Linked DNA regions of Homo sapiens. The protein of the gene in region 1 purifies or fractionates together with the protein of each later gene. This does not show direct contact. Each region holds a gene or a part of one and is shown on either strand. Other genes may lie near its edges. The genes, in order: SBF2 and MTMR1.

Region 1 (7,273 bases):
ACAAGTAGATGTCTCTCATAGGAAACCTAGTCCAGGTAGAATATGAGACAATCTTGGAGGGTTTTGATTTTTGCTTGTTAAACAGGTCTCCGAGGAAATTATGACCTCAGAGAACAAAAAAGGATCTATAGCTTTCATGAAGAAGGACCCAAGTAGGTGGTAGCCATTTTGCCTGGGTGAGGTTCACAGTTGGCTCAGGAGACATCTTCTGATCATTAACCACTAAGACCCTGTTAGAAAAATTTAGTGCAAGATACAGGGAGTGCATGGGGCTGTTGACCAGACCTGTGTGAAACACCTATTCAGGTTAAGTAGATATAGCAACCCCTGCAAGAGGGGACTGGGCAGGAGAACCTCAGGCCCTGGGATAACTTGTTGTCAGCTCCTCAAGGATCCATGCTTCTTTTTCTATCTATCTGGCAGCATGAGTTCTTCTGTTTCTTCTGCGTGGGTTGACCATGGGCATCAGGCATCAGAGATACAACTCTGGATCTTGTCCATCCATTGCTGGGCACTCTGTCCATCCTGGGCGCAGAAGTTATACACACGTTTGCTGGTCTTGAGCTACAAAACCAAATGACAGTGAACCAGAGATGAAGGGCAGGGCTGTTTTATGGATTTGGGTAAGTGGTAAATCAGTTCCTGTGACCTTTCTTTTCCATACTGCCCCAGAACGTCTGTATGAATTTTTCTTCCTCAACTACCATACTGTTATTGCCTTTACTTTTGTGGTCTCTAGAGTCATAGGGGATGTTGATAGAAGGGTACTGGCAGGAAAGGGAGACACACTGGGAGCGCCTTATTTTGCATTTTCTTAGTGTCGTCTTTGACTAAGGAGGAAGGGTCAGCAATGAATGGTGCCTTTAACCTTTCCCATGCACTGCACCAATGCACTGAAGGTGAGGGAGCTCCTTGTGCTCCAGGGGGATGCCTGAGATTCATGCATACCATAAAGTTGGCCTTCGTGTCCCCTTTCTTTAGTTGGAGCCATATTGGAAGCCCACTGTCAGGAAAACGGTCTCATGGCCTGAGCAGGGCCATAGAGGATGACCTATCCTCTTTATAAAGCCCTGCTTGACTCCAGGGACTACATAAGTCTCCTTCTATTATGTGGCCTATAAAGTGCCCCATGGCCTACCTAAGGGCTGCTGAAGATGTTAGCGTAGACACTTATCATGTGTGACTAAGGACAGTCTTTTGTGGGTAGTCAAGCACGAAGACCACTGAATACTAGGGAAATAGCATCTGTTCTTGAAAGTAGGTGGTGACTGAAATAACTAACAACATTTAACAAGGAGTTCATCTGTTTCCATGTGCGCTGGACTCCTTTTGCACAAAGCAATATGTAGCTTTTCTGAGACATACAGACAGGAAGAGAGGATAGCCTTGGGGGTCAATAATGCTGAGTTCAAGCTCTGGAACAATTCCCATAGCCAAGGGGGTCTGTCATCCATCTGTAGTCACCACCAATTACTCTGAGGGCTCCATCATTCTTGGAGACAGACAGAATGATGTGCAGACAGAGCCAGGAAAAGAGAAGTAAGATCAACTTACATCAAAGAAAGCCTTGTCACTTGTGTGCTTTGGGGCTCCCATGCTGGGGCCAGCAGGGATGACCATTTCTACTTCAGCCAGATCAATGTGGCCTTTACAGCTTGTGTCCTCACCTGAGTCATAGTAGCGCAGCTGGAACCAAAAGGATACAAGTGAGATATAAGAGACAGAAAGAGAAAATGCCATGGCTTTTCAAACTGCATTTGAATACCTTCCTCTGTACCTTGGTTATATATGCTGAACTATGCCTCGAAGAATACACAAAAAATTAATTAATAATACTTGTTGCTTCTAGGAAGAACTAGGTGGCTTGGAGAAAGCATTGGGGGAAAGACTTATGTACTGTTTGAAAATCAAACAAATAAATGTATTACATCTTAAAAAATAGAATCAAGGCTGGGCATGGTGGTTTATGCCTGTAATCCCAGTCCTTTTTGGGAGGTGAAGGTGGACGGATCACTTAAGCCCAGGAGTTCGAGACCAGCCTGGGCAACATGGTGAAACCCCGTCTCTACAAAAACATACAAAAATCAGCCAATCGTGGTGGTGCATGCCCGTAGTTGCAGCTACCCAGGAGGCTGAGGTGGGAGGATTGCTTGAGCCTGTGAGGTCGAGCTGCAGTGAGCTGAGATCCTGCCACTGCACTCCAGCCTGAGTAAGACCCTGTCTCAAAAAATAAAAAAAAAAAAAAGAAGTCAAGTAACAACTGTAAAAAGTATATGTAACATATAAAAAGAGGGCTAATGTTTAGTAATATACAGAATTCCCAGAAATTGATAAGAAAAAGATAAAGTAGAAAAATGCTCAAAATATCTCAACAGGCGAGTCACAGAGAAATACAAATGATCTATAAACATCTGAAAAGATGATCAACCTCATTAATCAAAGAAAAATAAATGACAATAAATGAGATTTCACTTTTGGATTGAGAAATATTAAAAATGGCTGATGATATCCAATAAGGTACTAGATCATCTCAAATACTGCCAGTGTGAATATAATTTGTTAGAAATTTTTTGGAGAACAATTTGGCAATATCAACTAAAATTTAGAATGTTTATGCCTATTGAAACATCTTTCCAGGCCGGGCACGGTTGCTCATGCCTGTAATCCTAACACTTTGGGAGGCTGAGGCGGGTGGATCACTTGAGGTCAGGAGTTTGAGACCAGCCTGACCAATATGGTGAAACCCCGTCTCTACTAAAAATACAAAAATTAGCTGGGCATGGTGGCAGGCGCCTGTAATCCCAGCTACTCGGGAGGCTGAGCCAGAGAATGGCGAGAACCCAGGAGGTGGAGCTTGCAGTGAGCCGAGATTGCACCACTGCACTCCAGCCTGGGTGACAAAGCGAGACTCTGTCTCAAAAGAAAAAAAAAAAAAAAGAAAAAAGGAAAAAAGTCAAAGAGACTGCTAGGGAATAAGCCTTATTGGGCCATAATCTGTGGATTTCACTCTCTAGTATACATGGCAAGAAAGTGGTGCTTCTGATACCGTGGCTCTGACCTGAGACTTTTCTCTGTCTCTCCTCTCAGGCATGGTATGAGCAGGGCTAAGTGGAAAAAACTGTATCTATCTTTCATGTTAAAGAAGTCCAGAAGACTGGTAAGAATGCAAGTGTAATTTGATGTAAATTATAGAAAAATTATGACATTCTCCTATGTTATATTTAGAAGCTTAATGGAACTTTTTTACACAGTGTAGGCTCTATGATTTCAGAGTATAGCTCCCTAACAGGGCTTCCATTTGTATATTTGAACATAAATTATCTATCTATATTGTCCCACAAAGACTCTGTAATCGTTATGAAACTCCTTGAGCAGAGGAAAAGCTGGACTCCAAATACAGTCTTCATTTGGAAGGAGTCTTTTAGATGCAGGTCCAACCAAAGCACTGTACAGGAGTAACAGTTCAGGTTTTTCCTAACAGATTCCATTTTATAGATAAATGCATTGAGAATCAAAATGTGTAAGCCTCAGCCTCAAGGCTGAGTGGTCAGTCCCAAGGTGGAGTTAAGGCCTGCAGTCAGAACACAGGAGACCATGCAGCTCTCAGTAATGCAGGGTGCAGAGTTGCTGGAGGTTTGGGTAGGAACTGCTCTCCCTTGAAATCACTGGAGTAAAGACTATGATGCTAAGGATTGCAGAGGCTGCTACAGGAATAGCTAAGAACCTAACAGTAGTCAAAAGATTTCTTGACATAGTCAGCAAGGACCAGTCTAGTACTTGCCCACGGTGAATTCCAAGTTTGGGTGGGCACATCCCCTTCTGCCGCTTTTGGGGCCCCTTTACTCCCCTGTTGCTGCCATCTTTGAAGGGTAACAGTGCCTCCTTTAGTAACCAGTACAGCAGTGGGCACAGAGGTGGTGTTCGATAAATGTTTGTAGAATAAATTAATGCCCTCTGTTTTGAATGGATGCTTTCTGCTGCGAGGACGAAGGTAACTTGTATTCTGGGGAGTGTTCACAGGCATAGGCTTATATGTGCATGTGGTATGTATGCAACTGGCTGAAAACCTCAGGAATCCCCTCACCTGGGTGTTAAGATCAGGCAGCAAGAGATATTTGAGCATTAAAAAAAGAGTTCTATTGCTCTATGCTCTGGGCTCAATTGTTGCTGCCTCTGCCTGCATGTACCAGGCCGAGCTACTTGGGAAACTCCCTCAGAAGGCTATTGCCCTTACTCAGGGACATCTGGGGCCCTTGAGGAGCCTCCAGACTACATATGAGAGGCACTAAAAAAGCAGTCTGTACATGAGGAATCTATCTGTCTGCTAGAGCCACATAATAGCCAGGGACTGGGACTAGCCTAGACAGAAGTAATTTCTTTTGGCTTTAAGAGTATTACCTGATGTTTTGTTACATCCAAAACAAACCAACGGGGCTTCCAACCTTTCAGCAAAGCCCCTCTTTTATAAAGTGTTCCCTCAAAGGACCTAGAAGAAATGATGACAGGAGAGTTAATTTTGATTTACACTTACAAAATGCTGTAAAGGGGAGGGGATATCTGTTGTTTTTGTCAAGTCTCTATTTCCCCTAGATGATTCAAAAATGGCCTATAAGAGTTCTCCCTGGATTTTTTCTGCTAGACCTCTGGGGAAAGACTGCTGCTTTCTGCTGGGATTACCACATCTGTGAGGCTTGGAATGATCAGTAGCCATCCTTTGTGCCATGTTGGGACTGACATAACACAGAGAGAGGGCAAAGCAGAGCCAGGAAGTGGATAGAAGATACTGTGTGAGAAGCTAGCATACCCTTGGCTGTCCTAGCTTATGTGAGTAAATTCCTTTTTGCTTCAGCTAGCATAAGCTGGATTTCTGATGTGTGCCACTGACAAAGTGCTGGCTGACACATGTTCCCTCAAACGTTCTGGCAGACAGGAGATAAGAGCCATCAGGACTCAACTACAAATAACTACAACCTCTTCGAATTATTTTTAGTTGTAATTTTTGTTTTTTGTCTTTTCAAAGAAACATCTAAAACATTACAAAAATTAAAGCAAATCCATTTCAAGTTTATAAAAGGCTGTACTGCACAGGCCTAGCTTATTGAGGGACCTGTGGTTTAGCCTCAGGTGCTGTGGGGAAGTCTTCAGCACAGCGAGCAGGGTTCAGCATGTCACCTGTTTTCATCATTCTTGGATGTATACTGGCTATAGAGCGTGGCTGCTCTTCGCTCCACTCCATTGGATGGGGAGATGCTGGAATTCTGTTCCTCCCCCATGCTGCTGTCTGGGAGATGTAGCAGAGACCTCTTCTGATAGGAAGGTAGGTTGGTAGACACAATTCCTGGGGATCTCGACAGGTGTCTTTGGGACTGAAAAAGACAGGACAGGAGCTAGGAAACCTTTACAGACACTTAAACTACTGACTGGAAAATTTCATTTACAAATATTTATCTCAAGGAAAAAACTGGACTAATAAGCAACAATAATGTACAAAGGTATCAATCTCAGAGTTAGTTATCGTGGTAAAAAACTGGAAACAACCTACACGTCCATTATTAGGGACATTAAACAAATTATGGCATTTCCATACAGTGGAATTCTAGACAGCCATTAAAAAATGATGCTGCTATGACCAGGCGTGGTGGCTCATGCATGTAATCCTAGCACTTTGGGAGGCCGAGGTGAGTGGATCACTTGAGTCCAGGAGTTCGAGACCAGCCTGGGCAACATGGCGAAGCCCCATTTCTACAAAAAATATTTTAAAAATGAGCCAGGTATGGTGGTGTGTGCCTGTAGTCCCAGCTACTTGGGATGATCACCAGAACCCTGGAGGTTGAGGCTGCAGTGAGCCATGATCACGCCACTGCACTCCAGCCTAGGTGACAGAGTGAGACACTATCTCAAAAAAAATAAAGATGTTGATGGTTTTTTTTTTGAGACAGGGTCTCACTCTATCGCCCAGGCTGGAGTACAGTGGCATGATCTCGGCTTACTGCAACCTCTGCCTGCTGGGTTCAAGTGATTCTCCTGACTCAGCCTCCCAAGTAGCTGGGATTACAGGCACACACTACCATGCCTGGCTAATTTTTTGTATTTTTAGTAGAGACAGAGTTTCACCATGCTGGCTATGCTGGTCTCGAACTCCTGACTTCATGCCTGCCTCGGCCTCCCAAAGTGCTGGGATTACAGGCATGAGCCACTGCGCCTGGCAGACACTGGTTTATACACAGTGACAGTTGGAAGGACACGTATGCCAACGTGGAGTGAAAAAGCAGGTTTAAAATAGTATGTCTAGAAAATCTCTTTTATATGTGAATTTATAAGGGTAAAACAAGTTTGATAGCATAGTGGTTTACTTCTAGGTTATAAATTATGGGTGATTCTCATCTTTTATAACTTTCTGTGTGTTCTTTCAAAAAAATGAACATTATTACTTTCATTATTAGAAAAAATCAATAAACTATTATTTTTCTAACAAAAAAGCATTAAGGCATCACCCACCTGTTGTCTGTCTGATAACAGCTCCTGAATTGCTATTTGAGGGTAAGAGATAGAGCCCCAGATGTTCTTTTTTTACCACAAAGGTTTTCTTCTACCCTCCATTCTTCTTGACCTTTCTGTAACATCTGACCTGCTGGCCTCTTCTTCCTGAACTGTTCTTCAGAACACTCATCTGTCCTAATTTCCCTTCTGTTGCATTTGGAGCCAGTCTGATGTGGGTTCGATTGGTGGCTCTACCAGTTGCCACTGTATGCTCTCTGTGCCTGTTCCTTGTGTAGGAGAGGGAACGCCATTCCCTCACAGTGGATTAAATAGGATACGAAGGTGTGTACTGTACTAAGCACAGACCCTTCCACATATTATGTGCTTGATAAATGTTTCTTAAATCAGAAATAGGAAATGGGGTATGAGAAGCAGAAAACAGAGTATTTGGTTTTAAAATATATATATACATTTTTTTGAGACGGAGTCTTGTTCTGTCACGAGGCTGGAGTGTGGTGGCACGATCTCGGCTCACTCACTGCAACCTCCGCCTCCTGAGTTCAAGAGATTCTCCTGCCTCAGCCTCCTGAGTAGCTGGGATTACAGGCATGCGCCACCACACCCAGCTAATTTTTGTATTTTTAGTAGAGACGGGGTTTCACCATGTTGGCCAGGATGGTCTCGATCTCTTGACCTCGTGATCCGCCCACCTCGGCCTCCCAAAGTGCTGGGATTATAGGCGTGAGCCACCGCACCCGGCCGTTAAAATATTTTTATGATAAATGTTTCTTAA
Region 2 (7,508 bases), on another chromosome or scaffold:
CAATGTAGTTACACACAGTGAAGCACAGTGGGTTAGCAGACAGGAGGCCTGGACATGAGTCCTGCTTCTGTCACCAGCTAACTCCATGATCTTTGGCAAGACACATCCTCTTACAGGACCACAGCTTCCTCATTATTAATTACAGTATTCAGAAGAGAAGTGAAGGCCCCATAGTCCCAGGGACATGGCCAAGTCCCACCCATAGAGCCAGGTTCCATTCTAGAGGTCACTCTTCAAAGAAAAGTGTGAATCTGAGCTTGTTGAGCTGACAGAACTGAGAAAGGAGGCCATGATTCCTCCCCCATCCCTTCTCTGTAGTCTGTGCAATTGCCCTCTATACTCCTGGTGTCAATAACTACTTACAGGCTGGAGGCTCCCAGCTCTGTTTCTCCAACCTGGACTCTCCTGATCTCAATGCTGATGTTCCTACAAGACCTGTCCACTAGTCTGGCCCAGAGACCCTGCCAATTCAACCTGTCTAAACCAGCATCAGCCGCTCAGCCCCGCAACCTACTCTGCTCCTGTGTTTCCTAACTCAGGGCGCAGCACAGCCAGTTATCCGGCCCCCACACGCTAGAAAGCTGAGGTTTGCCTTGGAGTCCACCCGGCACTCCCCCCTCACATCTGAATGCTCACCATGTCGGGTCACTCTTACCTGGTAAGCATCTTGAAAATCCACCCAGCCCTATTCCTAGCCCAATTCCCTTTTCCAGACCTCCATCATTCTTCTGTGAACTCCACCTGCCTCATGAATTTAAGCCTCATCTATAAGCCCATGACTCCCCAGTTTGAATCTCCAGCCCAGACAACCCTGAACTCCAGGCTCAGATAGATCAACTATATCTTTGACATCTATTCTGGGACATATAATTGGCATCTCAAAATTGATATGTCCAGAGCGAAGAGCCTGCTATTTTCTAACCCTGCTCCACCTTAGAAAGACTTCTCCATCTCAGCAACACAATTTTCCCACAAGCTAAAATTTTGGAATTCTCCCAGATTCTTCTCTCATACCAACCAACCAATCTTCAGCAAACCCCATTGGCTCTACCCTGCAGGTCTTCAAATTACATGTAGTATCTGACCACTTCTCCCCTCCTCCGCTCCACTCTGGACCACCATCTCACTTGGCTTACTACAATAGCCTCCTACTGACAGTCTCTGCTTCAGCTCCTTCCCCTTTCACTCTATTGTCCACATAGCACCATGGAGAGCCTACTGAAATCTACAACAGATGATGTCACTCCTCTGCACAAAGTCCCCAGTGGCTCCCCATGGCCTCTGAGGCTCTCCACCATCTGGCTCTGTGACTTCTCTAACGTCATCCCTTACTTGTCTCTCCCTAGCTCCCTCCCTGCTAGTGACACCTAGTCTCCTCGCTGATCTAGGAACACTTGGCTCACATTCACCTCAGGGGCTTTGCACAGGCCTCTGACTAGAATACTATCACCCCCAGGTATCTGTATGGCTGGATCCCTCGCCTCTTTGGGGGCATTACTCAAATGTCAGCTTTCTCAGGCTTTCCCTGATCATCAAAATCTCTGAAGGAAACCAGAAGATGAGGCATATTTGGGGGTGACACATTCTGGTCTCCTTTGGCTTCTTAAATGATTCTGATGCATGCCCATCCTGAGTACTTCTGTGTTCGCCTCTACCACCTATCTCATTTATCACATTCGATTTCCACTGTTGGTTGGTTTGTATTCTCCACTAGATGGTAAGTCTAGCAAAATGGTAAGGCAGCAAAAGCCGTGTTGTGCTATTCTCTGAATCGCCCAGACCTCGTGTGTGGTTGAATATTTGCAGATGAGTGAAGTCCTCACCATTTCAAGTGCTGTCTTAGCTGTGACTGGTTTTCAGTGACACTAACCACTTGGGTGATTAATTTATTAAAATATATTGTAATTACACTGAGGTAGAAACAAAAGTGAAGGGAATGTTTCTTGTTTCTGTGCTTTTGGAAACTCCCAAAAGTTTGGCACAATGGGATGACCAAGACAGGCAGGAATGGGCATGTAAAACTGACTGAGCTACATTCCAACAGTGCATGCTGCCTGAGTGCACTCTGGTGTCAGGGAAATGGCCAAGTTGTGGGAAAACTGGATGTTCCGGGTTACACGATAGGCCATCTCTTGTCGTCGGAGGAGGCGGTGGCCCCTCCCAGTTCGACACGGTCACTTTATGTTTCTAACTGATTTCTCTTAGTTCTGCAGCTGCCTCAGAAGCAGTAGGCTTGCTTGTGTGTTCATGAAAACAATAAACTGGTTCCCTCAAAGTGTGAAGAACTGAAAGTAAATGGTTCTGTTTTCTTGCCTCCTGAGCAGTTTGGACGTTTTCCATCTCAGATTTTTGCCTCGATCTGCACCAGCTCCCACGCCCGCGGGGTCCCATCTCCCCGTCCTCACTCCCAACCCCCCATCAAAGACCCTAAGCAGCCACAGCAGAATTGGGGTCTTAAAACCACACGAGGCAAGGTGATGCTAGAAGAGGAGAGCCCGGGTGGGATCTCCCTCCCAAGAGGATTGGTGGCCTGGGCAGGGACAGCCAAGCGATCGCCAAGGGCAGCAGGTGGCGGCGCCGGAAGTGGTTTGACAGCTGCGAAGCCCCTCCCGGGGTTCCAGGAGCTGGGGCTCTCGGGGCGGAAGTGAGCCAGGTGCGCGGCCCGCAGCAGGTCCGAGGGCAGCAGTCCCCGGATGGGGCGCTGAGGTTTCCGGGGGTGGGGGGGAGGAGGGCCCAGAGGGGATGAAGAGGGGCCGCCCACCCCGCCACCGCCAGGCCCTGCGCAGCGCGCGGGGAGGGGGCGGGCTGGCCTCGCGCGGGGCCCTCGGGAGTCGGGGCGCGGGAGGCCGGGGCAGCCCGGGCCCCGCTTACCTGTCCAGGGTCTCCACGCTGGGCTGCCGGGAGCCGGCGGTGGCGCCCCCCGCGGCCCGAGGAGGCCTCCTGCCGCCCGCCGGCCCCGGGTTCGGGCCCCCGCCGCCCTCGCAGCCCGCCGCCGCCGCCGCCGCCGGCCTGTCCATGGCGCGCCGAGTCCTGCCGCCTTGGGGAAGCCGCCGTCGGGACGGGAGCGGCGGCCGGGAAGGTTTCGCTGCTTGCCTCCTGCCGCCCGCTCTATACCGCCCGCCCGCCTCAGGCGGCCGCCGCCATTAGCTGTCACCTGGCGGCCCCGCGTTACCCACAAGGCCGCGCGCGCGGGGGTCGGGGGGCGGGAGCGGGGGCGGGGAGGGCGGCGCGCGGGGCCGGCGCCGGGAACCCCCACCTCGCCCAGCCCCACCTGGGCGCTCGCCCACGGAGCCTTACAGCGGGGATCTGGGACCTCCTGCTCCAGCGACCTGGGTGCGTACAGAGCCACTGGGGTTCGGAATCCCCAAACGGATTATGCGTAGCGTGCTTCACTCTATAGTCACACCGGGTTGACTGCAGAGACGTGGGGTGTAAAAAGAAGTTTGAAGACATTCAAGTATCAAAAATGATTTCCCACCTCAGTTGTCCTTCCCGGAAAAGGTATAGAACAGCTCAAGCTCCCTCGGTCTTGACATCTTGAAGCAGGAGCAATTCCGTGCATTTTAGCAATTCCTCCCCACCCCATTCTTCCCTCCACTCTCCCCCTCCATACGCACCCCGCCGCCCCGCCACAAACCCACCCCCTTGCCATCTGTAGGGCAACCAAGTGTTCTGATGCCGCCCTCGGAGCTTCCGCCCATGGTTTATGTTAAGAGTAACATTTAACTTCTGTTGATTAAAAAATCACTGCTATGAACATCAAGCCAATATCTTGGTGAGGCATTTAGGACATTTGCTTTCTGGGCTAGATTTATTTCCTTGCTCATTTTGTTTGGGTTCGAATATCCAACAGCTCATCCCCTCTCACCTCACCCCTGATTAAGTTGGGAGTGGGTGTGTGGCTCGTGATTAAGCCTCTTTGCCTGTGATTGCTCTGGGTGTAGACAGGAGGCCTGCGACCCAGGTCTGGAAAAGAAGATATAAAGGGAACAATTTGCTCACTGTTAAAAGGCAGATCTGCAGACAGGGAGTTACTCATGCCCATCCCAGACCCATCCTGCCCCACCAGCTTAATAACTTCAAACTGAACTTTGAGGATATGATGCCTGAAGCCCCGACAGCCATCTTACGCACAAGAGGAGGTGAGCCTGGGGTAAGAAGATGACAGAGTGAGGAGGGCTAGGAGGAAGGAAAGGAAGATCCCCAGACAATAATAGCTCCTATCTCACACTGGAGAATCACCGACTGCAGGTTGCTGGCTTTCTAAAATTATTAAATCAAATGGTTAACCCACTGTTATGGACTGAATGTTTTCATCCCCCTGAAGTCCATATGTTGAAGCCCTAATTCCCTGTGTGATGGTATTTGGAGATGGGGTCTTTGAGAGGCAATTAGGTCATGAGGGCCAAGCTCTAGTCTGATGGAACTGGTGCTTTTTAAGAAGGGTCACCAGAGAGCTTGATCTCATGCACTCACATGCACACACTGAGAAAAGGCCGTGTGAGTACACAGCAAGAAGGTGGCCATCTGCAAGCCAGGAACAGAGCCCTTACTAGGTCCCTGCTGGACACTTAATCTTGGACTTTCCAGCCTCCAGAGTTGTGAGAAAATTTCTGTTGTTTAAGCCACCCAGTCTATGGTATTTTGTTTTGGCAGCCTAAGCACACTAAGACACCCACTTTTAGTTGGGTATTTTGTTACAAGTAGCTGCAAGCATCTTAGCTGTGCTGAGAATTGTCAGAAAGAAAACAGTGCAACTTTAAGCATATTTTAAGTACCATATTCTTTAAGAAACATTAGGCCAAAGAGGAATTCACTGTGACACTGTCATACTTCCAATTCAGTTAAGTACACTTAGGATTTAGAGGACAGAGATGAATCTGACATATCCCTGCCTAAGATGTTCACAATCCAGTGAAGGGGACAGACAAATTAACAATGACATTACAAGTTGGCAAGTGCTATAATGGGGACAATTGCACAGGATGTGGAACACCTACCCCAATCCATAGGAGAAGAGGAGGTCAGGAAAACTTCCCCAAAAAGGTGACATAAAACTGAATCTTTAAAGATGAGTAAATCCTTGATGAGGCAAAGGAGTCAAGTTATTCCAGGCAGAAGGCACAGTTATGGGCAAAGGTGTGGATTAGTAGGTATATTAATCTGTTTTGCTTTGCTGTAAAGGAATACCAGAGACCTGGTAATTTATAAAGAAAAGAAGTTTATTTTGGCTCACAGTTCTGCAGACCGTACAAGAAGCATTGTGCTGGCATCTGCTTCTGGTAAGGGCCTCAGCAAGCTTACAATCATGGTGGAAGGCGAAGAGGAAACAGGCATGTCAAATGGTGAGAGAAGGAGCAAGTGAAAGGTGAGGGAGGCACCAGACTCTTTCAAACGACCAGCTCTTGCATGAACTCATAGAACGAGGATTCACTCATTACCACGGGGAGGGCACAAAGCCTTTCCTGAGGGGTCCACCTTCAGGATGTTCACAATCCAGTTTGCAACCCAGACACCCCTTACTCAGCCCCAACTCCAACATTAGGGCTCACATTTCAACATGAGATTTGGACGGCACAAACATCCAAACTCTATCTGTAGGTTAAATAGCTTATTATGTGCAAGAGAATGCCAAGAAATCGAGTGTTACTGGAGCATAAAGTCAGACAAGATAAGTGAGGATCTGGACTGGTGGTAGGCCAAGAAGTTTGGGCTTTGTTCTGCAGCTCACCAGATCTCAAATGTTAGTGTGCAAGAATCAGCCCCAGTCTGCATTTTCAGCAAATGCTCCCATGATTCTGATGCGGGGCTTGCTGCACTTGGAGAAATACTATTGTATAGTCCCCCATCTACGTCCATTTGATAGATTGTGCTTCCAAAGACTGCTGCAATAATATCCCCCATCCCACACACTCTTTTGCAAGGTGATCTTACCACTCATACATCAAGAGGTGGATTCTGTTTACCTTCTCCTTGAATGTGGACTGGCCCTGTAACCCCTTTGACCAATAGAATGTAGCAGAGGTGATGCTGTATAATTTCCAAGGCTAACCCTTAAGGGATTTGCAACTTCCAGTTTGCTTTCTGTGCATACTCCTTCTTGGAAGTCAGCTGCCATACTCTGAGGAAGCCCAAGCAGCCACAGGGAGAGGCCCATATGGAAGAGAACCAAAGCTCTCAGCCAATAGCCCTAGCTGAGTTCCCCAGGCAGCATGGCCAGAAGCCAGCACTAACTGCCAGCTATGTGAGTGAGGCCATTTCAAGCCTTTCAGTCATTCTGGTGGCCTAGCCAACACCACATGAAGCTGATGAATCATACAATTGACTCACAGATTTTTGAAAACTAATGAATTATGGTTTTAAGCCACTAGGTTTTGGGGTGATTTTTTGTGCAGCAATAGAGCACCCAAGCATTGCTCTTGATGAATGATCCAGAGAAGTAATCCCCTACCTGCTCAGCTCCCTTCCCCATTCAGCTATAGGAATCCATGCACAAATCACAGCCACACTCCAAGGAGGGTACTCCACAGTAGTAGGTCAGAAGCTGTTATAATCTAAGATTTTACCCTACTAGCAAGCTGAAAATTTAGTTGATCACCACACTCTAACACTCTGAGAGAAAATATAAAGCCTCTGGATCCGAAACAAAGACAGTTTATTATTCACAGCAAAATCAGCAGCCACAGCAATATCTTGGATCTGCATCCTGAACCCCAGTCTCTACAGGGTGGCATGCTGTTCTGCAGTGCAACCTTGCCACTCTTACATTAAGAGGTGGTATCGGCTGGGCGTGGTGGCTCACGCCTGTAATCCTAGCACTTTGGGAGGCCGAGGTGGGCAGATCACCTGAGGTCAGGAGTTCAAGACCAGCCTGGCCAACGTGGCGAAAGCCCATCTCTACTAAAAATACAAAAATTAGCCGGGCGTGGTGGCACATGCCTATAATCCCAGCTACTTGGGAGGCTGAGGTAGGAGAATCGCTTGAACCCAGGAGGCAGAGGTTGCAGTGAGCTGAGATCCTGCCACTGCACTCCAGCCTGGGCGACAGTGCGAGACTCCGTCTCAAACAAAACGAAACAAAACAAAACAAAAACAGGTGGTACCTATTTCCCCTCCTTTTGAATGGGGGCTGGCCTGTAACTGCCTTTGACCAATAGGAGGCTAGATAGTATCTGCACATGTAATGGGATACACCACAGGAGAGAAAACCCCAACGCAGGAAACTCTGGCTACTAGTGACCTACCCATTCTCCCCTGCAGGGAGAGAGATTACTCGTTACCTTGGAATGAATGATCAGATGTAAACAAATGTCCTTTGTGGAGATTTACATTTACTACCCTGGATTGGAATGTCTCCTCATACCAACTTTACTAACGTGGCTGTAAATGTATTTCCTCAGAGAACCCTGACCATGCTGAAACCGGAGATAGTCATGGTGAATTGTCTCCAAACACACACAGGCCCTACCACCCCCTTCTGCCCACATGGGGGTCTAGTCATAGTTGCT

What was found.
Region 2: the proteins of SBF2 (region 1) and MTMR1 purify together in Homo sapiens (affinity purification with mass spectrometry; 3 studies listed by BioGRID and IntAct, with this or other methods). This does not show direct contact.

The regions. Positions count from the first base shown.
Region 1 is NC_000011.10:9,779,953-9,787,225, forward strand, and holds part of SBF2 (myotubularin-related protein 13), read right to left. Parts: intron 5,367-7,273; coding exon 5,173-5,366; intron 4,487-5,172; coding exon 4,399-4,486; intron 3,158-4,398; exon of another isoform or gene 3,088-3,157; intron 1,687-3,087; coding exon 1,555-1,686; intron 624-1,554; exon of another isoform or gene 595-623; intron 565-594; coding exon 466-564; 3' UTR 1-465. UniProt on the Homo sapiens protein: Guanine nucleotide exchange factor (GEF) which activates RAB21 and possibly RAB28. Promotes the exchange of GDP to GTP, converting inactive GDP-bound Rab proteins into their active GTP-bound form.
Region 2 is NC_000023.11:150,689,040-150,696,547, reverse strand, and holds the start of MTMR1 (phosphatidylinositol-3-phosphate phosphatase MTMR1), read right to left. Parts: upstream 3,153-7,508; 5' UTR 3,018-3,152; coding exon 2,872-3,017; intron 1-2,871. UniProt on the Homo sapiens protein: Lipid phosphatase that specifically dephosphorylates the D-3 position of phosphatidylinositol 3-phosphate, generating phosphatidylinositol. Could also dephosphorylate phosphatidylinositol 3,5-bisphosphate to produce phosphatidylinositol 5-phosphate.